Linked DNA regions of Homo sapiens: all the other regions are reported to be linked to region 1. Evidence: microRNA targets listed by miRTarBase, many of them from high-throughput screens and not tested one by one. Region 1 holds a microRNA gene; each other region holds the end of a gene's coding sequence.

Region 1 (4,070 bases):
ATTGTCTATATTTAATCTACCTATGGCGAAACCAAGGCCCAGGAACATTAACTAATTTGTCAAAGGTGACATGATAAAATGATCATAGGGCAAGGAATAGTCGCCACCAGGGTTCCAAGCCAGATTAACACTAATATTACCAGTTCAGGTCTATACTGTGTTGAGACTTCATTTATAAAGTCTTGTTTTCAATTTCTGATCACCACTTACATGTGAAAGCAAAGCAGAGAGTCAAAAAACAATTGTTGAATGCTGAATAAGATAAGCATTTTTAGCTTTAAAATTAAAATGTGAGCTTAATTTTAAAATTATAGACCAGGCAAATATCACAGAACGCAAATATTTTGGCTCCGAGAACTAAAAAAAGAAATTTTTTTTTGAGACAAAGTCTGTTGCTGAGGCTGGAGAGCAATGGTGTGATCATAGCTCACTGCAGCCTCAACCTCCTGGGCTCAAGCGATCCTCTCACCTCAGCCTCCAGAGCAGCTGGAATTATAAGCACGTGCCACCACATCCAGCTAATTTTTTGTAGACAGGGTGTTGCCATGTTGCCCAGGCTGGCCTCGAACTCCTGGCCTCAATCATTCCTCCTACTTCAGTCTCCCAAAGTGCTGGGATTATAGGCATGAGCCACTTCACAGGCCATGAGAATTAAAAATTTAAAACATTAAAACAAAGATCAACAATGTACTGCTCCAGGGCCTAACTGAGGCCTTTGCATGTTTTTGTAAATAAAGTTTTATTGGAACATAGCCATACCTATTCATTACATATTGCCTACAGCTGCTTTCATGTTACAAAGGCAGAGTTAAGTAGTAACAACACTGCAAAGCCTAAAATATTTATTCTTTGGACCTTTTCAGAACAAGTTTGCTGACCCTGATTTAGAGGACAGTTGAAAAACTTAGAAATGAAATAAATTATCTATTTTGTTCTCTGGTTTCTTTTCTTACCCTGCTGCAGAAACTGACCAGGATATCTTCTCTTTCCCGAGTGCACTAGTAAGGTGCTTTTTCCCCCAGTGTTACCCTTGCTCCAGGTTCCACAAGAGAGCTCTATTTATCTTAAGCTATCTCTTAAGCTATTTACCAGAGAAATATATATTATATTGAAGGGTATGAAATTAACTGCAGATTTCTGTAGAGTGGCTCCAGGGCATAATACCTAAACACATCTATTCTCCATAAAGAGAGCACAGAAACGAAAACAAGGAAGGGCAGTGAGGTACTTTCTGCCCCAATAAAAAACACTCTTTAACAGAATACATTTCAAATACTTTAGTTATTACTCTACATTACTGACAGTCACATTTGATTAGAACTTTAGTTTTCACAGTTTCTTCGAGCCTATTATTGCATCCACCCCAACAACTTTGTGGGGCAGAGAGTTTATAGAAAACTGATGTTGGAAAGAACTTGCTCACGGTCACGCAGCCAGGGGGAAGTGCACATGAAGGCAAACCCTGGTCCTCTCTTCTTGTTCTACCCCTCATAAGCCAACAAGATATTTTAAATCGATGTTGCCTAATTTTTTTTCCTACCACCACACCATATATACAGGAAGCTTATGCCCATTAGTAGTATTTCTTATTATTGGTAGTGAGTCTCAAAGAAAAGAGGAGGAAAACAACCACCTCCTCTTTTCTTAGAGACTCACTACCAGTAATAAGTAATTCAGTAATAAGTAAACCAGCAATTCATCCTCACCTCCCAAATGCAGGTAGGGCAATACAATTTGGAGGAGAAAAACCCTAGGCATTCTCAAGTCTTCTCCCCATTTTCCCACCGTGCTCCCTCTAACCTTCAATCTCTCTTTTAATGGTCCAGGAATAACTGATTTCACAGTTGTATACTAGCTGACTATTAAAACTTATTTTTTTGCATGAGCAATGTGCACTTACCAACGTCCTTCCGAATCCTATAGAGAAGAAGATGTCCTTGTTTGGTTCCCACAAGAAGCCATTCCTCTGGAAAAACAAAACAAAACAAAAACAAAAACAAAAAAAAACCAGCTTTGAGAAAGGTCAATCAGCTTGAGTATAACCCTATTTTTTTAGCTGGGGCTTGTAATCAGAAATCAATGTGTCAAGAAAATGAGTTGCTTTTGATAGGAGGTGTTTTGCAAAGCTAAGAAATGTTTATACTCATGTTTGAAAATCAACCATTTAAAAACACATTTATTGAATAATTACTAGGCTAGACATATCAGAGGATAAAAATGTCCTGGCTCAATTGTTTTAATGTTAAACTAATAAAAAAGATAGAAGGGCTTTGTATTTTTAAGATTAAATTATTATGATTTTTATTTTTTGTTATATATACTTTTATTAAGATATATATCTTCAGATATATATTTTTAAATTCTGCTAAAAAGAATATGATGAAAGTTTATAAAATCACAAAATGGAAGTACAAATGTGAAACCAGGTATCCAACCTCAGCAATAATAGCTAAGAGGCATCCTTTAAATGCTTTTACTTTCAGGAAAATAAATGACGTAACATAATAAGCTTACAGAATTCATTATCTCAAAAGATAGTCTAGTAGAAAATATTTAATAACAAGTGTTGATGAGAATATAAAGAAATTAGAATCCTCATACACTGCTGGCAGGAATGTAAAATGGGAGAGCCACTTTGGAAAAGTCTAGCAGCTCCTCAAAAGGCTAAACAGAGTTACCCTGGGACCCAGCAATTCCACTCCTGGTTACACACCCAACAGAAATGAAAACATATTCTACACAAAAACTTGTACACAAATGTTCACAGCAGTATTATCTGTAATAGCTAAAAGATGGAAACAAACCAAATGTCCACCAACTGATGAACGGATAAACAAAATGTGGCATGTCTATATAACGGAATATTAGCTAACAATGAAAAGAAAGGAAGTATGGATATATGCTACAACACAGATGAACCTAAAAACATGATGCTAACTGAAGGAAGCCAGACAAAAGGCCACGTGATTCCATTTATATGAAATGTCCAGAGTAGGCAAATCCACAGAGGTAGAAAGATTAGCGGTTGCCCAGGGCTGGTGGGCTTGGGGGAAAATAGAAAGTAAATACTAATGGGTACTGAGTTTCTTCTGAAAGTGATGAATATGTTCTAAAATTTATTGTGCTGATAGTTGCATAACTCTGTGAATGTACTAAAAACCATTTAATTGTACACTTTTTTTTAACTTTTATTTTTTTAAGATAGGGTTCTACTCTGTTGCCCAGGCTAGAGAGCAGTGGTGTGATCATGGCTCATTGCAGCCTCCACCTCCCTAGCTCAAGTGATCCTCCCACCTCAGCCTCCTGAGTGGCGAGAAATACAGGCATGCACCACCACGTTCAGCTATTTTTTAAAAAATGTTTATAGAGATGAGGGCTCACAATATTGCCCAATCTGGTCTCCAACTCTTGACCGCAAGCAATGCCCCTTCAGCTTCCCAAAGTGTTGGGATTACAGGGGTGAGCGACTGTGCCCAGCCAAATTGTACATTTTAAAAGATGGTCTAGGCTAGTGGTTCTTAAACTTTAGTGTATCACAATTATTTGAGAGTTTGTTAAAATACAGAATGCTAGGCTCTACCCCGGAGCATCTGATTTAGTAGGTTTAAAAGTAGGCCCAGGAATTTTCATTTCTAACAACTTCCCAGATGATGCTGATGCTGGTGGTTCAAGGACCACATTTTGGGAGGCACTGGTCTAGGTAAAAAGAGGCTCAGAAAGAGTTTAAATAATTACCCTGACAGACCCATATTACATCATTCAAGGAAGGTAAGCATGTACAGATACTTCCTTAGCTTTTTGATAACATAAAGGTCACTCATTCCTTTCATAAACTCTCTTGATTCTTGACCTCTGTAAAATAAAATCTTGGATAATGGTACAAATAGATAACTTTTATTGAGCATGTATTGTGTTCCAGGAAATGCTAAACGCATCTGTTATTTCACTAATCCTCACAACTATCCCTTGAAGTAAGTCCTTTTTTCAAATCCCCATTTTATAGATGAGGAAGTTGAGGCCTAGGGAATATATAACTTTTCCAGAGTCACACATGTGGCAAGCAGCAGAGT
Region 2 (4,070 bases), not on the chromosome of region 1:
TTCGGAAGTTGCAGTTTCTTTTGAGATTTTTAAAAAATTGGGGGGGTTCACTGTATCTCTGTCTGCAAATCTTAGAGAACACTCTATATGCGTTCAGTAAATATTCATTGAGACTCAATATGTGCTTTGGGAATAAGGCATAGTTTCTGCTTCATGCACCTTCCTGTCTACATCTGCTTCTTTGGGGTAGGTGTGGTGTTCATCACATTGTCTCAGTCACAGTCTCCCCAGGGACACACAACCTAGGAGTATACATTTCTACTCATTCCAACCATCATCACCAATTTACAAACTCATGTTGCTACTTAGCATTTAGACATTTACTTTGTCCAAATGGGAAGTTGGATTGCACTGATCATCTGTCTCTCTGTCCTTCCAGCTGCAGCAGTTTTTCAGTAACATGTTGGAGGAACACCAGAGGATCAGAGTTCATGCCAACTTACAGACAATAAAGAATGAAAATCTGAAAAACAAGAAGCTAAGTGCCAGGATAGCTGCGTGGCTAAGGAGAAACACATAGCTTGTGGCTATCTTTCAGCACTCCTCTTGCATATTATAATGTAGTTTGTTCACAGTTTTGTCTTCCAATACTTTGTGAGTCTGGAAAACCACACATTTTATTTGTATTTCAGTCACATTTATTACTCAGAGTGCCATTCTTCTCATATTGTCATGTTTGGCCCTGAGGGTGGGTGATTGCTGACAATTTTGCCAATGCTGCTGTATTTCTGGGAAAGATGTCACTTCATGTTGGGTTATAATCCCACAGAATTTACTTTAAATGTCACGTAAAAACAAATTCACCTAAGATAGTCTTGCTTATTTTGTTGCGAAGGCCAGTGGAATATAAAAATCAATGGCATTAATGAGGAGCACATTCTTTGCTGAGGGAAATAACAGTTTTTCCAGGCCCTAGGGTTTATTTAGTTCAACATTGAAGATTGAAAAGACTAATGAGAAGATAACATGACAATATAAAAAGACAGAAACTCAAAAAGTATATTCACTAGAAGACAGTGGAGCCAAAGAAAAGCAAGTTGAAAAAGAAAGAGGAGACAATTTAACGAGCCCTAAAGGCAAGAAGTGTGTCTTCTCCTGCCCATTTCTCTCTCCCACAGTACATCCTGCATTGAACCACGTGTTGCTGGTTACTAAACTTTATGGTGTCACAAAAAGACAAATGATTGTAGGATCCATGGAAGTGCACTTAGGCTTGCTGTGGTGGAGGCCATAGTGGAGATGAAGGCTCTGCTCTGAAGCTCTTAATTGTGTATTCACCAGTGGGATGGACACCCTTTCAGCCTAAGCGTACGAGTGAAAACAATGATGTCAAAAGACAATAGCAAGTATAGGCTACTATTTAGGGCAAAAGGAATCTTGAAATGAAAGAAACAGAACTAAAAGGCTAACTGGAGCATAATCCTTACAGTTTTGCACTCAGGGGATTAAGTTTGAAACATAGTGTCTTTTGGCCAAATTGAACCTACTTGTAATGTGGACCAACTTACTTTACACATTTTCATCAGTCCCAATGTATGGAATTAGCTTAGTTTTCTCATGCTTGATTAAAACAAGACAACTAAAGCTAATCATTCCTCTTCTAGACTTTGTGTATATGATTTAATCTTTTATTTTTATTTTTGTAGAATGGGGGTAAAACTACAAATCTCCTCCTCAGGGTGATATTTTTAAAGATTAAGGAGTATGACATCAATTAACAGTCTTTAAAGATGTTACATACGCTCAAAGCAATGTGATTAAGACTTTTTGCCTATTTCTTGTATAAGTTAAGGCAGCCATAAATGAAAATACAAAACAAACGTTTGCTTTTGTATTTGATTCACAAGAGGATTCTCCCTGAGTGTCAGGGGAGGCTGTGGGACTTCACCACGTGGACAAACGAAAGCACAGGCTACTCAGACTTGGCCACAGGTCATAGGTCAGAGAATTTTTTCTTCAAATGTAGAAATGTAAATTTTCAGCAATAAAATATCTGCATGCCTACAAAGTGTTGTAGCTGAGATACCTTCCTGTTTTTTTTCTTAAACACTCATTCTATATTTCCCATATTTCCTCTGATAATGAATCTCATCTTTCAATAACTTTGTCTTCACTTGTCCTCTCAACTGCTTTTCTCTTCCTCTTCTTCTTCTGTGTCTTAGTCCATTTTGTGCTGCTGTCATAGAATACCTTAGACTGGGTAATTTATGAAGAACAGAGATGAGTTTCTTACCATTCTGAAGGCTGGAGATTCCAAGGTCGAGGGGCCTGCATCTCACTAGGGCCTTCCTGCTGTATCATCCCATGGTACAAGGCAAGAGGGCAAGAGAAAGAAGAGGGAAGAGGACTGAACTCATCTTTTTTATCAGGAACCCTCTCCCAAGACAACTAGCCAACTCCCATGATAACAGCACTAATCTATTCATGAAGGCAGAACCTTCATGACCTAATCACCTCTTAAAAGTCCCACCTCTCAACATTGCATTGAGGATTAAGTTTCCAACACATGACCTTGGAGGGACACATTCAAGCCATACATAGCTCTCTCCTCTGTTTCCACTCCCGTTCTTTCTCTATCAAGCTGCCTCTTCCCTTCTCCCCTTTTCTCCTTTCTCCTCTTTCCAGTAATCTCTGCCTTACTTCTGCCTGGTTGTTCTTATCCTTGCTCCTTGATCTTCCTACCCAACCATGCTCTCAGTCCACCAAGCGTGCTTTGAGGCTGACACTCAGTGTCAAGAAGGCTCTGATGCCTGGTATTGGGTGATGCCAAGAACTACTGATCTTGCCAAAAGAGCATGTAGGCTGGTCTCTCCAGACTGTTAAAAGTTAAACTGAATCCTATTACATCTTAGCTTCTGTAGTAATTAAATAGTGCTGAAGGCGTTTCTCCAAAATCAAATTCCCAAATATTTAATTAATAGTCTTTCCTCTAAATATGGGGAAAAAATGGATGATATACCATTTTTACTTACTTGGATGAAGCTGGCTACTTAAGCACTGCATTTTATTATGCTTTACCTTATACAAACTATAAAAACAAGTAATTGTTGATTGGTTTCTGTGATAGCAATAATGCAGTAACAAGTCAGGGAGTGGTACCGAGGCTGATTTTCTGTGTGGCATAAATACTTTATTAACCAATAAAAACAGCTTATCTGTTAGCACCCCAACTATAAAATGATTTCCCTGACCCAGTCCATTTATTGTATACCTTTCATCTTGAAAATAATTAACAAAATATACAATATAGTCATGATTTTTTCCAATTTCATAATTCGAAATTAAATTTTTTCTCACAATCTTATGCTTTTTTTTTTTGCCCAACCCCATTCAGTGACTTGCCATTGTTGATTTTAAATGGAAGAACAGATGTCTTAGTGTGATGTTCAGCATTTTTTGTAATTTAGATCCCTGGGACCAATCTGTATAGCAATTTATTCTGGGGAAGGCATGAAGAAGCAAAGTGAGATGAGATTTAAAAGGTAGCTCGTCTTAGTTACTTTTCCTGTTTAATCCATTCTTTGCTCCAATAAAAGCTGTCTTTTTCTCATCCAAACTCTAGCAGGATTACCATGTTCAAAGCAAAGCCTTAGGGGATGCTTACAAGTAAATATAACTGCCTCCCCCACACAAAGAATGATTTAGCACAGTTAGCAGCATTTGAAACCATACATATGTTGCCTTTGGCTCATTCTTCTAATTCAACAAGATTTAGCAAAGGTAATCTGTACAACACATATATTTAGGAGTTATTTGGACTCTTCCTCTTCCCTTCCCTTCATAAATAAGTCAGTCCTAGAGGTGAAATAGAGCAAGGTGGCATCTGAACCAGTGGGAATTGAGGGGGAGCCATGGTGGCCCATGACCTGAAGTGGGCTTAAGAGTTTGAATGGGGTGAAGAAAGAATCCACACAGAGGAGGGGAGATCACAGTGGGATATCAGAACCCAGACAGGGTGAATAAGGTTACCACACGGTGGCGAAGGGAGTTATGACACGGTGACTTAGAGCCCAGATAGGGTGAGAAGAGTATCTAATGGGGGTTGTGTAACCCAGAATGGGTAGTTGAAG
Region 3 (4,070 bases), not on the chromosome of region 1:
TCCTCCTGTCCTAGCCTCCCAAGCAGCTGGGACTACAGATGTGCACTATCATGCCCAATTTGTTTTTATCTTTTTTAGTGTGTGTGTAAAGATGAGGTCTTGCTATGTTGCCCAGGCTGGTCTCAAACCCCTGGGCTCAAGTGATCCTCTCGCCCTAGCTGCCAAAGCTCTGTGATTACAGGTATGAGCCACTGGGCCCAGCCAATTTAGGATTTGTTGAGCATCTAGGATCCTCTAGGTATTTATTTAACTTTTATTATTAGTCACACACACAAAAAAATTTTTTTTGAAATTTTGTCAATCTTAGCTTTTTCTTTGGAATAGAACAGTTTAAAATCCATTGCTTTCATTTGGAATTATTTAGCAAGAATGGAGAACAGATATTTTCTTTTCAATATATTAATAAATATGATCAGTAACATTGCCATTGCACTTCTCTAGCTTCCTTCTCTAAATGCTCCCTCCTCTGTCATTACAGGGGGCCTACAAGTCATCTACAATATGCTATTGTCCAGAGAAAGGAACCTGGACAGAACTCGAAGGAGATGTAGCAGAACCGTTGGCAGGCCCTGCCTGTGTGACAGTTATTCTGCCCTCTTGTGTACCATACAACAAATAACACCAGGAAACTCTGGAATGAACAGTATCACATTCTAGGAAGCAATGGCAGGTGACATCACTATTATAATAGGAACAATGCATTCTAATGGTACAACTGCCAAAACCCACCCTTGGTTTCTGATGATTTATAAGTAACTACAAAAGAAAGAGACCTGTTCTTGAACAGATACTATGTCTATAACTCAGATCGCACCAAACTTCCTGTGGTGACAGACTCTTCCATTTCAGACTGGTTTTAACTTATCCCAGCTTTACAAAAACTCTTCATGTGAATCTTAACTTGCAAAAGGAGAAAGATAAAATACAGAAGACTGGCCCCAGAGAGACCTCAGATCAGTATTGTGCATTGTAGTCTACCTGCATGTGATCTATGTTGACATTTCGGGGATATTGTGTTCAAGAATGATTCCAAATTTGAGCCACCAAAATACACTGCATTACAGAAATTGCCACTTGATTCTGTACTCTTAACCTTTGGCTACTTCACAGACTCCATTGGCAACACTGTTATTGAAAATCATGTAAGATTAAAGAGAGGCATTTTCGTTTCTATACAACTTCATTTCATACACCTTCTGCCCTTACAGCACCTCATGGGATCAGAAAAGAGAAAGATGTTGGCTCTTGTAATAAATGCTTTCTACCCTATAGGTTCTAGGCTAGACAGAGTCGTCATTTCTGTGTCCTCAATTTTATCTGAAAGATTAAAACAAAATATATTATGTCACTATTCAGTTCATGGAGGTTTGTGCTTTTTCATATTTTGTGATATATAAGTAGTGAACACACATGTTATTTACTTCAAAAGACAGGATTGACAAATTCAGTCAATACTATTTTAGAGATTCTGTTAGATGATATGTCTGACCCAAATTTAATCCATAATAAAAAAAAATGGGAGATTGTTTTCAGGAATTCAGGGATGAAAAGAAAGAATAATTTCCATTAAGTAGAATTCCAGTTGTCTTTCTGTTTCTAAAACACAGAACTTACAAGAGCCACAGGAGCCAATTATAGCACCTGACAGAATACTTCTCCTCTTCCTCACCTTCGGGTGCCTCTAGACACTTGACTTACGATCGTTATTCCCCCAATTCATCATATTTTGTTTGTTATCACCAGAGATGCCTGAACTCAGTTAAGCGAGCAATTGCTAGTTGTCTTGAGGAGCATGAGGAATTCAGGAGCAGAAGGTCAGGATAGCATGAGATAGTCTCAATGTGGCCAACCAAAAGGACAAAACTGACAGGAATGCACATTCGATTTTCAAGCCCTCCAGAGCTTGAACAACAACTTTAGGAGTAAATAAAAGCCTAAAATATATTTTAACCATCCAGAGATGGTGTTGAATCCTTCAACAAATGTGTCATTCAAAACAGTAATTAGGGAAATCCCACAGATGAAAAATGCCTTAGTGATAAGCTTTCATGGCAGAGCACGTCAAGATAAATGGGTATACTGGAATCCGATGCCGTTTCTACAGTAAAGTGCAATCTTCGTTGTTTTTGTATTTATTTGTATGTTCAGATCCAAAGGATCCGTTGTAAAAATATATATATATAAATATATGTATATCCAGTGCAATCAACTGTCATTTCTTTTTCCTTAAAACATATGAGTATATAGAAAGAAAAGTTACAGTACTCTGTGGGAAAATCTCAGCTGACATCATGAATAGAATGAGGTCTGCTTCAGAACCTTTTGTTGTCAACTGTCACTGTTTCTTCCAAAAGTCACAATTTGTACAAGAACCTTTGCTTTCCTTAGACTTGTTCTGCATTTTATTTTTTATTTCTCACCAAAATAAAAGCATTTATGAGAATTATAAGTAAAGCTTTCTGTATTTCAGAGAGACATAAGTTACTAGAAAGTGAAAAGTGAATAAATAAGTCACAGAGAATGTAAATTTTGTACAGTATTAGAATGTGTAAATGAAGCTTGCTTGGAAGGGGAAAACTTTAAATAAAAACTTTATGTACTAATTCAACTGTCTCTCATATCCTACTTACATATGTATAAATCTCTACATTAAACCGTTTGAAGGTTTGTGATATGTAAATGCCTAAATATTTTTGTTCTGAAGCTGTGATTTACAAGTGTTATTTGGCTTTCTCACAATATGTAAATGTATACAGTATGGACAGTGCTAAAATTATGGAATACTTCTGGAAAATGCTGTGAGTTAAAAATCATATGAGTGGAATCTGATGTTTTCACTACAAGAGTGTTATAATAAGACATAACTTATCTGAGATCAAATAACTAAATATTTATACACATTATTAGAAGCACCATTTGTGTTAAAAATAACTGCACCCTTTTTAAAGAATAAGTGAGTCACACATTTAATTAAATCAATTATCAAATACATAGTATTTAATTTTATTCTCTTTTGAAGATCTGATGAAGTAGTTGTACAGGGCAATTAGAGGGGCTATGGGAGACATAGGGGGAACTAAGGCTTGCAGTTAAGGGTAGCAGTTGGGCAGCCTTCCAGGCAAAGAGCTGTGTAAGATCAGGAGCTACGTTCGGAAGCCTGTAAGCTGGGGGGAATTTACTTTAATGCTTCCCAGCCAAATCTATCATTAGTGATGATTAAACTCAAAATTAGAGGATATTTTGATTCTCCCTAATATTCCACAAGAAAGAGTAATGGAGTTTCTTTCTCCTTCCATTGGATCTTCTCCTCCACATACTAGAGTAGCACACTGAAAGAAGACCCTTCTCCTGAGCCAATGGCTAGTTGCTGAAGGGCTTCTCCAAATCCCCTGAAATACCCAAGGCTCCAGTGCTGACTAAATATCATGAGATGTTAAGAAGGCATGCTTATCTTTTTCCTAATCCCAATAAGCCACCTACTTGATGTCCCTCGCTAGACTGTACTTTCATGTTTTATATTTAGTTAGTTAATACTTGAAGGAATTTTGGGTAAAGTGGAAATATACTGAGGGGACAAAAAAAGATATTTTTTCTAAGAATACATCTTAAAACTGACTAAAACTGGAAGAATGCATATACAGACCAGATTTTTAAAATTAATTAAGCTGTGTCTGTGAGCTTGAAATTAGTGTCTGCATTTGTTCTACCCTATTCAGCCAAAGTCATATTTTCCCAGCTGCTTGACACTTATATCACTTAACAAACTATCATCATTATCAACATGGTAAGTATCAAGTATTCATTGAATATCCCAAAGAGCATCATTATAAATGCCTGACTTCTGATTAAACTTAATTCTTTAGGTCAAAATAGTTTTTAAAAACAAATAAATAAGCTAAAACAAGAGTAGTAAAGCACACCAAAGCCAACTAATACACATTGATGAGTACCTTGATAGACTGAGTTCTCACAGAAAGGACCGATCATGACTGATCATGCCTGACTTTCTAGAAGCACCTAACCTTGAGGATATTAAAACTTTAGTGGAAAATATTATGCCAATAAGAAGC
Region 4 (4,070 bases), not on the chromosome of region 1:
TGGCCAAGGGATAAGGAACTGAATGCTAGAGTCCCAGGTCACAGTGGAGGACTGTGGTGGAGAATGAATGGATTTGGGGGTGAGGTAAAGTGGGAATAACTAGCACTGTTTTAAGCAAAATGCCAGAGAAATAACCTGATTACTGTCCTTGGGTTAAAAAGCCAAAACAAGGGCTGAGCGTGGTGGCTCATGCCTGTAATCCCAGCACTTTGGGAGGCCGAGGTGGGCGGATCACAAGGTCAAGAGATCAAACCATCCTGGCCAACGTGGTGAAACCCCGTCTGTAGTAAAAGTACAAAAATTAGCTGGGCATGGTGGCATATGCCTGTAGTCCCAGCCACTCTGAAGGCTGAGGCAGGAGAATTGCTTGAACCTGGGAGGCAGAGGTTGCAGTGAGCCAAGATCGTGCCACTGCTCTCCAGCCTGGCAACAGAGTGAGACTCTGTCTCAAAAAAAAAAAAAAAAAAAAAAAAGCCAAAACAAAACACAACGCTTTTGTGCCAGTATAAATGGACAGCACTCATTTTATGACTAAATCTATCATGCTTTAAAGAAACATTCAATATATTTAACCAATACCTTTAGTTCAGTTTTCTCTTCAGAAAGCCACTTCTGAAACCCAGTTGGCACTTAATGTATGTGTGATTTTACCTGTAAGGTTTCTAATTCCAGTTTGATTTTTCTGGCCAGGAAATTTACATTATTATGTTAATTTAATACAAAGTCTCCAAGGCTTGTAGCAGCTCATCCTTACCTTAAGGTCAAAGCTAGAATACAGCCATCTATAGGTAATATGTCAAAAGATGTTGTCCCCTTATTCTGATAGTAAGAGAGGTATTCAGGCCTTTAACAGTAGATGTTTGACTTTTAGGCCATTCAAATATATAAATCAGTGGGTTTACCACTATTGTATTAAGCAGTGACCACTTGTTTTCTCTTGCAGAGAACATCATGGGAATGCTATGCAGCCATCTGTCAAGGATAACAGTGGTAGCCATGGCTCTCCTATCAGTGGAAAATTAGAAGGCATCTTCTTCAGCTGCAGCACTGAATTCAATACTGGAAAGCCACCCCAGGATTCACCTTATGGAAGATACAGGTTTGAGATTGCCGCAGAAAAACTTTTTAACCCCAATACTAACTTATACTTTGGGGACTTCTACTGTATGTACACTGCTTATCATTATGTGATTCTTGTTATTGCTCCTGTGGGATCACCAGGAGATGAATTTTGTAAGCAGCGCCTTCCTCAACTAAATTCTAAGGATAATAAATTTTTGACCTGTACAGAAGAAGATGGGGTGCTGGTTTACCACCATGCCCAGGATGTCATTTTAGAAGTCATTTACACTGACCCTGTGGATCTTTCTGTGGGCACCGTGGCAGAAATCACTGGTCATCAGCTCATGAGTTTGTCTACTGCAAATGCAAAGAAAGATCCCAGCTGCAAAACCTGTAATATCAGTGTTGGACGTTAATGCCCACTTTTCTTATTCTTACTCAGCCCCTTTTCCTCCCTTAGGAGCATTGGTCCTCTGTTGTCCATTTTTATCACCAGATGTTTTCCACTGAAGCATGCACATGCCACTGTCACCAAAACAAACAACTACCACTTTCCAAATTTCATTCAGAACCATTTTAGTGTTTTCCTATTCCCTACCCCTCCCACTACTTTCAATGATGAAATACCCTAAGTTAAGTTCTCCTTTTGACACTTTATTGCCTAGATGCTGCAATGTTTTTATGTTTCCTTTATGCCAAACATAACAAAACAGTTATATAGACTGCTTTAGCAAAGTACACAATAATGGCTTATAAATGGTGTTTAAATATGCATTCATTTTAATCTACTGAACAAATATTGGGATAACTCCAAACCGCATGAAAGGGTGTAATTGCAGCATGAGTTAAATCTTGAAGCCTAGAATTGTCAGCACTTCCAACTTCTTGTTTGACAGTGTTATTTATGTTATTTATATTAGCTAACAGGAAACAACTACTGTGTTTCAACATAATAAATATAATAGAAAAATATTTTATTTGTATTGTTGTATAAAATATTTACAATCATATAGAATATATAGAGTTACATTTTAATAGCAACTGTGTACATGTCACGAAACCATTTCCCTTATCAAAGATGTAATTTGTAAACCTCAAATAGTTGTGTATCTGTCCTGTTAGAAGTAGATGACTTCAATTAAACAAATTTATGAAGGACATTATTCTGATTCATAAAAGTTATAAAATATTAGGTAAATACAGAGAAAACAATAAGCCTCTGAAATAAGTCTGTTTCTGAAATAGTCAATAGTCTTCCCATCCAAACTATAAGAGAATGTGAATTTCTTCAACATCATACTTAAACATTACAGAAAATAGAAATACAAACAAGGTTGGTACATGAGAGAAAATGTTGACCTTTTACTTCCTTTTACAAAAATGAAAATAATAAACATGTTTTCGTATAAAATAACACAAAATGATATACACTGAAGTTGATGAAGCAAATAAATATTCTGGCTTCTTTTTCAAGGTATCAGGGCAAACAATTTCCAAACTTTTCATTTTGTACAGAAGGATGAATAACTACAGCTCATGGGAAATGTTTTGACTTTACAAAGTATAGATGTTGGAACATTAAGAAAAATGTATATTCCCAATGAAAAAATAGTTATATCATCTTATAGTAAACCAAAAGATTAGCAATAATACTATGGACACATTAGATTATATACTACAGACACATATCTATCCAAAATACCTATTTTAAATTTTTAATACAATATTTTATTTTAATATAAACATCTGTCAGTTATAGACAAAGATAATAATTCACAAAGTACATGCTATCAGAATGAACTTTGGTAACCAGAAATGTAAAATTTCAAATAACGGATAAAATAATGTGTTATTTTTATAGAGAAAGAAAAAAATAGCAACACAATCTAGTTTATTTTAGGGTACTGAGAGCCTAGCAGACTTAAAGGACAAGGTAGTAAATGTTTTATCACTCAAAAATCCATTAGAAGTTTCAAATAAATTGCTTTCTTGCTAGCTGTATTCCTTCCTACTTGAAAAGCGAATTTCTTTTCCTCCTATGATTGATTTTTTAAAATCATGCTCTTTTCCATACATCAACATAAACAGTCTTTGGATACTAAATAAACTTTCCCTAACAAGTGTCCTAGCTATGTTATTTAGATTTGATAAAATATTAGACATTTTTAAAAATACTTGTATTGACTATGAGTTTTCTGCTTGGCATGGAGGACACTGAATTTTTTCCCAATTATATGGCTACCTGTTGTATTCTTCCCCCCGTTTAAATCCCTTCTCCTTGTATATAATTAAACTTGCTATTCCTTCTTAAAAACAGCTAATACTACCACTAAAGTGCTTCCATTTTCATTGTGTCAAAACTACTTAGCAAGGATGGCAGAGGAAAATAAACTTTACTTTATATCATGGGTGAAAGTGATCATAACATTTCCTGAACCTCAAATAGTTTTGGCCACATCTTGCTTGCTGATGAGGACCTCTAATAGTCTCAGTTTGGCTTTTATGTGCTTATATTCATAATACTCATCTGCCATTGGTATCCTATCTTCCTTTTGTGGACTTCTGCAAAACAAAAATACATTTGTTAGTTCACAATGAATCAAGTCATTATTTAAACATTCTTTTATAATTCATACATGAGAAAGTATACTGTAACGGCCTCCACTTGGTTTTTGCATCATGTCTTCTTTTCCTTCCCTTTCACCTTCATTCACTCCTTCTTCCATGTGTTACTAAGTTTCTAAATAATAGTAACCTTTGAAAACTTGAATGTCATAAGTGTTTTGCAAATATGTGGTCTAGTGCTTAGACTTACAACAAAGGGGTCAGTGAAAAGATCTAAGGAGAAGCAAACAAACAAGAAACAGAACTTTCAAGGCATTCTTTGTCCAGTCATTCTTCCATTATTTGCCACACCCCTACAGCTGTACAAAATGATCAGCCCTAATACAGTTGTTAAAAATATTAACCTGAAAATACTACAGGAATTTCATTATAAAAATAACATA
Region 5 (4,070 bases), not on the chromosome of region 1:
TTGCCATATCACAGCAACAGCAGCAGCAAAGCAAGTCAAAGAAAAACCGAAGGGCAGGCAAACGCTATAAATTTGTGGATGCTGTCCCTGATATTTTTGCACAGATTGAAGTCAATGAGAAAAAGATTAGACAGAAAGCTCAGATTTTGGCACAGAAAGAACTACCCATAGATGAAGATGAAGAAATGAAAGACCTTTTAGATTTTGCAGATGTAACATACGAGAAACATAAAAATGGGGGCTTGATTAAAGGCCGGTTTGGACAGGCACGGATGGTGACAACTACACACAGCAGGGCCCCATCACTGTCTGCTTCCTATACCAGGTTGTTCCTGATTCTGAACATTGCTATTTTCTTTGTCATGTTGGCAATGCAACTGACTTATTTCCAGAGGGCCCAGAGCCTACATGGCCAAAGATGTCTTTATGCAGTTCTTCTCATAGATAGCTGTATTTTATTATGGTTGTACTCTTCTTGTTCCCAATCACAGTGTTAGCACTGAAGCTATAAATTACCTGGTCATTTTGTGATCACAAGAGTCTATGCAAAAAAAAAAATTTCTTTACCCCAGATTATCAGATTTTTTTCCCTCAGATTCATTTTAACAAATTAAGGGAAGATATTTTGACACAAGAAAGCAGGAACGTGGAGAAATTGGAGCAGGAAAAGAAATTATCAAAGCAATAGAAATAGCTTGGTGGTCCTATGGTGTTTTTGGAAGTATTTGGCATTGCTAATTGAGCAGTCCATATAGTACTACTTTTAGAAGAAACAAAAAGTCTATTTTTTAAAGTAATGTTTTTTCTTATGAGAAAAAGGTTTAGATAGAATTGGGTTTTATTAATATTAATTTAATGCTATTAGCAATTTCCATATACTATATTGTGGAAAAGACTGAAGAATACAATTCTGAGAAATATAAAAAAATTTTAATGGTATACTCATGTTGAAAGATAAATGTTGCTAAGTCCTGGTATGATGGTGTGAGCTTCCTTGGGGAAGTACTTCTTGAGTTATGTAACTAACAGGATGTTTTACTACAGATCTGGATGGCTATTCAGATAACATGGCAAAAAATGATAGCAGAAGATCATTAAAAACTTAAAATATATTTTATTAGAAAACATTTATCTATGAATGAATATTTCCTTGATGCTGGTCTCTGCACACATATGCTTGGTTACTTGCATGCATTCATTGGTTGTTCAATAAGTGAGATGATTACAGATAATACTGTATTTTCCTTATATGGAAAACCGTTATAGACCCAATAACAACTAAACCTTTCAAAAGAAAATATTTTCTATTATGAATGTTGATTTTCATACCAAAGAAGATGGAGAGTCTAAAATTTGGATATGATTCTTATGTTTTTTTAATAGAAAACCTTCTTCAAGTTTATTTTCCTAAATAAACATCATAATTGTGAATTTTCTCTAGTATTCTTCTTCTTTGTTCCATTATATTCAAAATGCATTAACATTTTCCAAAATTTTTGAAGAGAGATCTTTATTTGGACGTGTATTCATTAAATATATAAAGTAGTGTTTGAATCAAAAGAAGTATTTTCTCTGCTTATTAACCTTAATTGTTGTTTAAGCATATTTTAAATATTTAAAACAATAGCCAATTCTGATATTTAAGTAGCACCCAACTTTTAAAAGCATAAAATTTTCAATCAACTCCTCAGAAGGTAACAGCAGCATAGAATACTAGAAAAATAATCCATAGTTTCTACTTGAGCATAAGAAAATGATATACTTAAAAGGAACTTAATAAATTATCATACATTCAGCATATTTGAGTCATATATTTCTCCTTTGAAACAAAATATGTTCAGCTCAAATTTTACAGTAAGGACACACTCACTGATTTATAGGTGTAAAGTAACAACAGTAACCTTTCCTCTTACTTGCTCTTTTAGTTCACAGCAATACCAGTATGTAACCAAAAGACAAGCTAGAGAAACTTTTAAGTACCTTTCTGCAGTTCTAATTTGAACCTTCTTGCATAAAGAAAACACAAGTTTGACTTTTAACTGTGCTTCACTTATTATGCTTGGAATCTAGAAAACGACTTCTGAGGAAGTAATTTTTTTCCCCTCTCATGGAAAGTCTCTAGGGAGGATGTCATTACACACTGTTTAAAAGAATAATGTTTTCAAAAGAATAATGCTTCCGTTTGTCCTGCATGGATGCTCTTACTAGGATTTAAACTTGCTTTATGTGACAGATTCTCCATTTACTTAACCTCACTCAACATTCCTCTCTTTTACTCTTTCTCACTCAAAAGGATGAACTGTCTGAAATGATCAAAAGGAAATTTTGAAAGAAAAAAAAAAGGAAAATTATTCTTTGAGGTTACCAAGCAAACCTGATCTCAGATCCAAACTGAGACATACTTTCTAACAGAGATGAAAAGTGCAAGTGAGTGCCAAACTCGCTTTTCTTTTGTTTTCATTAGGTTAAGGCTTGACAATACGTTAGTCGCCACAGCATGATCCAGTGTAACATATTAGTTCATTTTAAAGTAGTCTTTTTAAAATACGCATCTTTAAAACAAAATGAATTAAAATTATGTGTTTTTTTTTTTTCTTCTAATGAACCTGGTATTTATTTCCTTAAAAAGAAACTTCCTCAGGCAGTGACTTAAGTGGTTAAGTGAAAAAAAAAAATGCTGAAACAAATCACCCCTCTTCATAATGAAACATGTTTTTTTTAATCAGGGATAGTGCATATTTGAGTAAAACTAGGGAACTTTTTGTAACTTGAAAACAAAGCAATGTTAAATCTCCCTTGAAACTGAGTAATCAGTTATGGAATCTGTTTCAATGCTGCTCACTATGACAGGAATGTTTCAAGTTCATTTGATAATATGTGAGCTGTTGTTCAGGGGATTGGCAGGACTCTTGGTCCTAGCCTTAAAGAAAATTTGAGAATCACTAGCATACAGAGCTTGTCAGTGCAGTAAAAGTGGTATATTCCTGGGAAGCTGAGGTGGGAGTATTGCCTGAGCTTAGGAGTTCTGTGCTGCAGTGAGCTATGACTGTGCCACTGCACTCCAGCCTTGGAGACAGAGTGAGACCGTGTTTCTCTCTTTTTTTTTTTTTTAAGTATATTCCCTTGTTTATAACTGATTAGCTTATTTCAGTTGATGGTAGATGAGACCTATGGTGGTGGATGAGACCCAGAATTTTCAGAGAGAACATTCTTTTGACAACATTGTTTTAATCGTCAAAGTCAGGTGGAAGACCGTGTTCTGGAACTATTTTAATTGTTAAAATGTATCACCTAAGATAATGAATTCTTCCACAAATATTTTAGTCATAGTTTTTAAGTACCACGTATTCTAAGGTTATCAGAAAATATGTCTTAACAGAATGTTTTGCATACTGAATAATTTGTTTTTGAAAAGGAAAATTTACATTTGACTTACTCAGTTTTTAAAAAATTATTTTTATTTCTAGAGACACGGTCCTTTCTGCATCACCCAGGCTGAAGTGTAGTGGCGTGATCGTAGCTCACTGCAGCCGCAAACTTCCCATCTTAAGCGATTCTTCTGCCTCAGCCTTCCAAAGTACTGGGATTAGAGGCATAGGTCATCATGCCCGGCCAAGTTAAAAAAATTTTTGATAGTTCACAAACCACTCACAAAAGAATCTGAAATTTCTCCAAGTGTTAAGAGAAAGCAAGCTATGAAATGCTATATTTGTAGGCTTAAAAGTAAATTAGTGTGTTTTCTTAAAAATCTAAACCAAGATTAAAATGAATATAGTCATAGGTATGAGGGGCATGTAATTTATCTTCCGACTGGAGATACCTTTGAGAGTTAAAGGAGGAGCAATTAATTGTTATTCCAGGACAACAGATATAAATCGAGATTATACTAGGTGAACTGGGACATATGGTCATCTTTGTCATAGCTTAATTCAGGAAAAAAGGAGTTAGGGAAGTCTGAAGGTCTAACTCAAAGTTTGATGCTTTTTAAGCAAGTTTAGGGAACTTGAGATGACCTGATTGAGACCCCTAAATCTACAGATGAGGAAAGCAAGCCTCAAGCAAGGGGGGCC
Region 6 (4,070 bases), not on the chromosome of region 1:
CCCCAAGGTTTATTGACTTCTGTTGTCTCCTCTGCTGGGCCCCCCATGTCTTGATGAATGCATCTGTTCTTCTATTAGTGAATGGCCCACTGAATAGCAAAAACAGTAGTGCAAAAAACAATTATGGATACTGTTCTTACAAAGCATCAAAGAGATTTAGCTCATTACATGCAGTCTTATATTTTTCCCCTGATTTTATGAGTTTGGGCTTCATGGTCTGGGCCAGTGGCTCCATGGTCTTCTTCCTCTACAGACACAAGCAGCAAGTCCAACACAATCACAGCAACAGACTCTCCTGCAGACCTTCCCAGGAAGCCAGAGCCACACACACCATCATGGTCCTGGTGAGCTCCTTTTTTGTTTTCTATTCAGTCCATAGTTTTCTGACAATTTGGACAACTGTAGTTGCAAACCCAGGCCAGTGGATAGTGACCAACTCTGTGTTGGTCGCCTCATGTTTCCCAGCACGCAGCCCTTTTGTCCTCATCATGAGTGATACTCATATCTCTCAGTTCTGTTTTGCCTGCAGGACAAGGAAAACACTCTTTCCTAATCTGGTTGTCATGCCATGAGTCTTTTCTCTTCATGGAATTCAGCTATTTATCATAACTCTTGCTAAGATTTAGGAAATATTAACTACTAGTTATTTGTGATAGCAACATACACATGGCCAGTAATGCTCTTGTCCAGGAAGATCTAATACCAGAGCTAAAAATGAAAGTCATGGATACTGTTACACAAAGAACACTCTATATAACTGTGTTAAGTCCTTCAGACAAGTTCAGGAAATCAAAAAGTTTAAAAAGGGAATTCTTTAGAGATTTAGGGGAGATTTCTCATTTTTGTACTATGAAGAATCATGGAATGTTTTAAAAATATTTTTAAAGCACAGTTTGATTCAGGTGCTTCTTGAACAGCATAAATCCCCTGGAGAGTCCACATGTAAGAAAGACATGTGCAGGCCGGGCACAGTGGCTCACGCCTGTAATCCCACCGTTTTGGGAGGCTGAGGCACTCCCAAATGCCTCAAGTGATCCACTCAAGATGACTTGAGGCCAGGAGTTCGAGACCAGCCTGGCCAACATGGCAAAAACCCTGTCTCAAATACAAAAATTAGCCAACCATGTGGCACACACCTGTAGTCCCAGCTACTCCAGAGGGTGAAGCACGAGAATTACTTACCAGCTTGGGTGACGGAGGGAGACTCAAAATAAAAATAAAAATAACTAAAAGTGGCTGGGCACCGTGGGTCACGCCGGTAACCCCAGCACTTTGAGAGGCTGAGGTGGGCAGATCACTTGAAGTCAGGAGTTCAAGACCAGCCTGGCCAACATGGTGAAACCCCATCTCTATTAAAAATACAAAAATTAGCCAGACATGGTGGCAGGTGCCTGTAATCCCAGCTACTCAGGAGACTGAGGCAGGAGAATCCTTGAACCCAGTAGGCAGAGGTTGCAGTGAGTCGAGATCCCACCACTGCACTCCAGCCTGGGAGACAGGGCAAGACGCCGTCTCAAAAAAAAAAAAAAAAAAGAAAGAAAGAAAGTGCTTCTGCACTCCAGCCTGGACAATAGAGCAAGACTATCTAAAAAAAAAAAAATTAAAAATCAATATCAAAATAAATGAGTATTCTCATAAGCAAGACAAGCCTAAAGAAATGTGAGTACTAACTGTAATGTGGTTACATTTAGAGACACATGAAAAAAAATAAATAAAAGAATAAAAAATAATAAAATAAATGCAATGTGGTATCCTAGGTGGAATTCTGGAACAGAACATGTATTTTGGTAAAAACTGAGGAAATCTCAATCAAAGATGTACTTTAGTTTAATAATGTATCAAAACTGTTTCACTAATTGTAAATAATGCTGTATACTAATATATGACTATATATTAGTAACAACTAGGTGTGCTTGTAAATGAGATATCTCTGTACTATATTTGCAATTTCTCTGTACATCTTAAAATGTTCTAAAATTAAAACTCTATTAAAATAGAAAAATAAGATTTTTTTTTAAAAAAAGGGAAAAGATTTAGAAATTTGGCCAAATATACAGATAACAAATAAGCATATAAAAACTTATTCAGCATCATTAATTATTAGAGAAATGCAAATTTAAAAACCACACTGACCACAACACATCTATGAAAATGGTTAATCTTTAAAATACACCATAACCATCATGGACAAGGAGGTATAACAAATGCAATTCTGCTAAATATATTCATATAAACACTTGTATATGAATGTTCATGGGTCTTTGTTAGTTTTTTAGTCCAACACTAGAAACAATCAAAATATTTATTAATAGATTAATAAATTGTGGTATATTCAATGCAATACTCTTCATCAACAAAAAATGAATACGCTTAACATGTATAAATATCAAAAAATGCTCCATATGAATGTAATGTAGGATTTCATTTGTATAAGATACTAGAAAATTTATAGGCCGGGCATGGTGGCTCACGCCTGTAATCCCAACACTTTGGGAGGCCAAGGCAGGTGGATCACTTGAGGTCAGGCGTTCGAGACCAGCCTGGCCAACATGGAGAAACCCCCGTCTCTACTAAAAATACAAAATTAGCCAGGCGTGGTGGCGCATGCCTGTAATCCTAGCTACTCAGGAGGCTGAGGCAGGAGAATCGCTTGAACCCAGAAGGTGGAGGTTGCGGTGAGCTGAGATCGTGCCATTGCACTCCAGCCTGGGCAACAAGAGTGAAATTCTGAGAAAGAGAAAGAAGAGAAGAGAGGAGAGGAGAGGAGGAGGAGAGGAGGAGAGGAGAGGAGAAGAGAAGGAGGGAGGGAAAGAAACAAAGAAAAAAGAAAAGAAAAAAGGAAAAAGAAAAGAGCAGGAGGGAGGGAGGAAGGAAGGAAGGAAAGATGTATATAGTGACATAAAGTAAACCAGTGGCTACCTGAGCATAAAAATTTGGGTAGGACTGTGAGCGAGAGAGAATAGAAAAGGGTACAAACAAACTATTGAGGCAATGGATATGTTTATTATCATGACTTTGGTGATTGTTTTTATATATTTTACACTTTAACAATGTGCAACTGAATGTCACTAATACCTCAATAAAGCTGTTAGAAAAGAAAAATTCCAAATAAAATCTGGATTTCTCAATCCTCTTTTATAACCTCTGGCAAAGCTGTGTTGATTCCATCATTAGCCTCTCCTCATGTCTTACGTGGGTCAACTCTGATTTTATAGTATCAAAAACTGGAAGCAATGTTGTTGGAAATTCAGAATCTCGGGGAAGAAGAACTGGAGACAAGGAAGGTTATGTCCACCTGAGTCACCAGGAATTATGTTTAGGTTTAAAAAAAAAAAAGACTTATCTCAGAAGTATAGAATCTCCCTTCATTCAGTCATGAGGCTCCTACCTGTGCAGTAGTGGTTTGAATTAACAGGCTTTATGTCTGTGTCTGTCTTCCACTACTATAGCAAAACACCACAGATTGCGTAATTTATAAAGTAGTTTGTTTCATACAGTTCTGGAGGCTGGGAAGTCCAAGGGTATGGCACTGGTATCTGCTTGGCATCTGGTGAGGGCCTTGTTACTCTGTCATAATATGACAGAAGGGCAAGTGAGCATGAAAGACAGAGACAGCTGATTTTATAAAAACGTCACTCTCGGGTTAACAAACCCACTCTTATGATAAAGGCATTGATTCCTTTATAAGGGCAGAGCCATCATGACCTAATCACCTCTTAAAGGTCCCATTTCTCCACACTGTTAAAATGGCAATTAAAATTCAACATACGTTTTATAACGCCAGAGACACAAGAATCCATAACACCTTTGGATTACTTGCTCTGACAATGACTTTGCCTACAGGAGATACACACGTCTGTAGGTCCTCAGAGTTTCTGTATACCCTCATCTCACATAGCCATAGTTACTGAAACATTCATGGATGTCTCTTTACAAGGCGCTCATCCATTCCACTCTAGTTTGCTGGTGTCTCATACTTCATATTAATACAATCACTGTTTCTGTACAGACTATGGTTCCCAAACTGCTTGCTATGGTTTGACCATCTCCTCCAAAAGTCACATTGAAGC
Region 7 (4,070 bases), not on the chromosome of region 1:
ATTTTGTTGAATTCACCTTTAAAGTAGGTTTACAAATGTGAATCATGCAGGCAGGCCTACTCCCGGAAGAGTGTGCTAGCAGACCTTTTGAAATTGGTGCTTTTTTTGAATCTCACATTTCTAGAAAGAATGGATTATGATGGATCTAAGGTATTTATGTATTTCATTCATTAATGATGACGTTGTTTTTTTTTTTTTAATTTTATTTTCCAAACTGTGCTGGACCAAACTACTGATTTGAAAGGCATGTCAGATCTTGACAGAAACATGGCCTGTTTATTCTGCATTCACCTGTGATGGTGAAACGGACATTTATTTGCATCGCTCTAATTTGAAATGTTTGTAATCTCATAAGCACTTTATAAACTTTGTTCTTATTTATGTAGGACTCTTCTTTGCTTTTGTTGTGGTCAAAAGGTGCTGAAACAGATTGTTGCTTCGTACTTAAACTTCTTAAACCAAGAACCTAAACCAAGGTTTCTTTGAGAGCCGCCCTAAGATGTGCGGAAACCTGTTAGAAGTAGCTGTACTCAAATTTGTTTTGAGGCAAGATCATTGATGAGAGTCATTGTGAAGGTACAACATGTAAATCCTAAAGGCCTGAAAGAACTGCAGTGGAATCGTCCAACTATTTATTGCCAGTTTTGGTTCTCCTGAACCTTATGCCACCTTAAGGGGAAAAAAAAATCCAGTAGCTGGCTTGAGATTCCAGTGCTCACACTTGACATGGTTTCCAGAGAATCTGGCCCCAAAGTCCAGAAGGCTCTGGTTTTCATAAAAGGTGTATTTGCTGTTTATTTTGTATGGTAAGTATTTGCTCTTTTGAATTTAATTATTACTGTCAGTGTCAGTCTTGGTTGTGTATTGCATATACTGTATTTATAAATTGGTGCAAAAAGCACAAGTAAATTATACATCAAATTTATTATAAAGAAATAGTAACTATTTTAACTTTGTTCAAGTATGTGGTAATTTGCTCCTATTAGAGTAAAAAAGAAACCAGTAAATTATCAGTTTGTGTAACTTAAGAGTATTCTATATAATATTTTTTTAGATTTAGATGCATAAAATTTTGAATGTGAAAATTGCAGGGCATTTTAAAACATATGTGGGGGATATTTTCCCATGTTCTCTGTTATTTCATTTTCTTTTGCCATATGATTTTACATATAATATAGTCAAGCATACTGTGAATAGACTTGTCTATAATGAGCAGACCATGTAAATCTACTTTTTTTAAAATGTAGCTAGTACAACTTTAGTAGACATTTTCTTTTGCAAATCATTATCTATAAATAATTTATATCTTCCTGGGTGAGTTACTCATTGCAAAGTTTGACTCATGCAAATGACCTCAAATACATGTCAGCTTACTTTGCTGTGGCAACATCCATGTGAACTGCTTTGTACACTGTGAAAATATTTCACTCCAGCCTGCCCATTTTGTGTTTACTCTGGGCTGGAAAAGACTTTGCCAAAACATTAAAAACTATTCTTTTCACTAAATTAATAGTCTATCTGCTTTCAGAAGATGTATCATCTATCTGTACACATTTTTGCTGGTTTTGTATATCAGATTTTTTCCTCTCAAGAAACATACTTAGATAAGCTAATGAAGTTGTTTTCTTCAAAGTAATATATCTATATAATGACTGCATTGGCAAATCAACCGAAATGTGAATGTTGTGCCTAGTGAGTGAGTCATGTTCCATCATTATTTCTTTCCAAATTTCTTTGCCAGTTCAGTTTGAACCATATATTTTGTAGCTCAGCATTGCAAACAACAGTAATACTGTTTTAAGAATGAGTGTTATAATTGCATAGCATTTGTATGCACTTTATACTTTGCAGAGGTGAGTTAAATTATTAATCATTTTGCACATGAAAGCTGTGGGGCATATCTTTTTTCTTTTTTTAGGTGAGGAAGTTATGCTACGACTCTAATTAATTCCACGATTCTATTGAAAGTTGAGGAATGCTGTTTTACCCCTGCGCATTATAAAGAAAATAACTAGAATTACTTTAGTCTTCAGATTTTCTCCCTGTTAATTCTGTATCTTGAGAGGTTTCTTTTTTTTTTTTTTTTTTTTCTTTTCTTGCAAATGCATTCTTTTGCATTAAGATGGTCACAAGGTAAAGCCCTGTGGCAGAACCTGGTACTTTACCTTACCAGAGGAAATTACCTTAGAATAAGATGGAGCGAGACCCCAGCTCCCCTTAAAGACAAGACCTTGAAATCAAATGGAGTCAGCTATACCTATCAATCAATCACAGTTCTTGGATATAAGAAGCCCATAGACTCTCTTGTTTACACTGTAGGCTTTTTCTTAATAGGGTTGCATTTGTCAGTCATTGCATTTACCCTTCTTGGCCTGGAAGTAGAGGAGATCAATGCGTAGCTTTGACCACTTCCAGCCACAGGGTACTAACATCAGACATAAGTTGCAACCAGGTCACATTTTAGGCTGAGATGGGGCTAACTGAAAGTCAGTGTGATGAAAACCCAAGGGCGCTATTCCACATGTCTCAAATGATTGGCAGGGGCTAACTTATTAGTAATTCTCGGTTTTGTGCACTGAGATATCTAAGACCTATGGCATTTTTTTCCCATTTATAAAGCTCCTATAATTCTTAAGTAAGTACTAGGTGAATGTTTGAATAGATGCTGGAGAAATTACACTGGAAAACCCCACCCCTAGATTTAGATAAGATCAATCATTTAATATTCCCCAAATTAATTCAGGTTGAATTAAGCATGTAATATAAATTCAGTGAATTACAAAAACACATTTTGTGTAGGATTGATCAGATTTTAAATACAGTGAAACTTCATTATATATAATAGACCTAGACCCTCCCAAGCATTTTCCCATCCCATAAAGAATTAATGAAATGAAATGCTTATAGAGCAACGATTCCTGCTCAGAAAAATTTCCTTATAAACAGCTCCAAACCAGGGGTGCCTGAGCTAGATTTTAAAGTTATAAAGAAGTTTCATTGTATTTTTAAAACCTTTTTAATGGGTGTATTTGGACAAAAATAACCCCCTTTTCACATTTTATGATGTGCAGGTATTACATTGCTTTTTACATGTGGAAAAGTGAGCCTGCATTTATTTTTAAATGCAGTTATTAAAACATTTTTGTATTCCCCATCAATGAAAATTTTCAGTGTGAACAAATGGTGAATCATAAGACAGTTCAGTGCTTATTTTCTGTAGGTTTTAGCAAAAAAATTTATAAACCACAAAATATTTATACATCAGGATGGTAAATTTACATCATAAAGATTGCAGATTTAATATTTTCCATTGTCTCTGTTCTGAGTGCCATGCTTGTAACATTGATAGGAGGTGGACACTAGGCAACTGGTATTAGAAGTTCATTTTTTTACTGAAAAATTCAGGTACATTAGCCATTTGTTATTTTATAGTGAACCGTTTCAATGTTTGTTTATTGTTATTTGTTGGCAAAATAAAAGTGCCTTAAGTTAAAAGTTTGTTTTGAGATCCATTAAATAAATCAGTATCATCAGTTCATAATGCATTTATTTACAAGTCCTTTTATTTTGCATGTTCATTGTAAATTTAATACTGTAAATGTATTCAAATTCATTTACATGCCTATGGCTGCCTTTGATTAAACTTCTTCCAAAAAATAAATTCTGCCCAGATGTTGTTGACTTTATTATTTCATGTCAGATTACTTGAATATACGTTGCTGCATAATCACTACCAAGTGGGTTCTTTGCTGTGCATTTGTATATCCCAGAATCGGAGGTTTGGGGATTCTGAATGACTAGGGTACCTTGTAAGTGAAGCTGCTCACTTCCATGTGTCCTCTCTTTACTTGCCGTTGAGAGAAGGGAGTGGTCAGGCATCTCCCATGTGATTTCTGGCTTGGGAACTCCCAAGGCCACACAGTGGAGCTGAAAGGCTGCCCCTGTCCTGGTGACAATACTCCTGGGTGGACGATTTGTAATTCGGGGAGGGTAGGCTACAATCATTACTGGAACAGTAATCAGTGTATGACCAACACTATTTTGAGCCTTACAGATATAGTTTCCTCTGT

Evidence for each region. Region 1 holds the annotated microRNA hsa-miR-627-3p (UCUUUUCUUUGAGACUCACU, at 1,598-1,617, opposite strand). A microRNA usually pairs through its seed, bases 2 to 8, with sites in the 3' UTR of a target mRNA and lowers its output. Matches are read on the target gene's strand: a 7mer-m8 pairs with bases 2 to 8, a 7mer-A1 pairs with bases 2 to 7 and ends in A, and an 8mer does both.
Region 2: miRTarBase lists LVRN as a target of hsa-miR-627-3p. Seed matches in the 3' UTR shown: 7mer-A1 at 944-950 and 7mer-m8 at 1,027-1,033.
Region 3: the mRNA of KLHL14 is a reported target of hsa-miR-627-3p. Seed matches in the 3' UTR shown: 8mer at 1,223-1,230, 7mer-A1 at 1,546-1,552 and 7mer-m8 at 2,250-2,256.
Region 4: the mRNA of FAM13C is a reported target of hsa-miR-627-3p. Seed matches in the 3' UTR shown: 7mer-A1 at 3,125-3,131 and 7mer-A1 at 3,089-3,095.
Region 5: the mRNA of DSE is a reported target of hsa-miR-627-3p. Seed matches in the 3' UTR shown: 7mer-A1 at 665-671 and 7mer-A1 at 889-895.
Region 6: the mRNA of VN1R1 is a reported target of hsa-miR-627-3p. The part of its 3' UTR that is shown has no 7-base or 8-base seed match.
Region 7: miRTarBase lists IGSF10 as a target of hsa-miR-627-3p. The part of its 3' UTR that is shown has no 7-base or 8-base seed match.

The regions. Positions count from the first base shown.
Region 1 is chr15:42,197,996-42,202,065 of GRCh38, forward strand. It overlaps MIR627 (microRNA 627), which reads right to left and starts at 1,671; the gene lies at 1,575-1,671. VPS39 (VPS39 subunit of HOPS complex) reads right to left here. Exons shown (of 25, transcript NM_015289.5): 2 at 1,901-1,966.
Region 2 is chr5:116,025,599-116,029,668 of GRCh38, forward strand. LVRN (laeverin) reads left to right here. Exons shown (of 20, transcript NM_173800.5): 20 at 380-2,008. The coding sequence ends at 520. Among named protein-coding and RNA genes, the nearest start is that of ARL14EPL, 4.8 kb to the right of the region's middle.
Region 3 is chr18:32,671,206-32,675,275 of GRCh38, reverse strand. KLHL14 (kelch like family member 14) reads left to right here. Exons shown (of 9, transcript NM_020805.3): 9 at 479-2,603. The coding sequence ends at 619. Among named protein-coding and RNA genes, the nearest start is that of KLHL14, 100 kb to the left of the region's middle.
Region 4 is chr10:59,244,114-59,248,183 of GRCh38, forward strand. It overlaps FAM13C (family with sequence similarity 13 member C), which reads right to left. Exons shown (of 14, transcript NM_198215.4): 14 at 2,020-3,624. The coding sequence ends at 3,501. PHYHIPL (phytanoyl-CoA 2-hydroxylase interacting protein like) reads left to right here. Exons shown (of 5, transcript NM_032439.4): 5 at 944-3,657. The coding sequence ends at 1,478. Among named protein-coding and RNA genes, the nearest start is that of PHYHIPL, 70 kb to the left of the region's middle.
Region 5 is chr6:116,436,849-116,440,918 of GRCh38, forward strand. DSE (dermatan sulfate epimerase) reads left to right here. Exons shown (of 6, transcript NM_013352.4): 6 at 1-4,070. The coding sequence ends at 497. Among named protein-coding and RNA genes, the nearest start is that of CALHM6, 22 kb to the right of the region's middle.
Region 6 is chr19:57,451,927-57,455,996 of GRCh38, reverse strand. VN1R1 (vomeronasal 1 receptor 1) reads left to right here. Exons shown (of 1, transcript NM_020633.4): 1 at 1-1,207. The coding sequence ends at 572. Among named protein-coding and RNA genes, the nearest start is that of VN1R1, 3.2 kb to the left of the region's middle.
Region 7 is chr3:151,432,993-151,437,062 of GRCh38, forward strand. IGSF10 (immunoglobulin superfamily member 10) reads right to left here. Exons shown (of 8, transcript NM_178822.5): 8 at 3,211-4,070. The coding sequence ends at 3,697. It overlaps MED12L (mediator complex subunit 12L), which reads left to right. Exons shown (of 45, transcript NM_001393769.1): 45 at 1-3,661. Among named protein-coding and RNA genes, the nearest start is that of IGSF10, 26 kb to the right of the region's middle.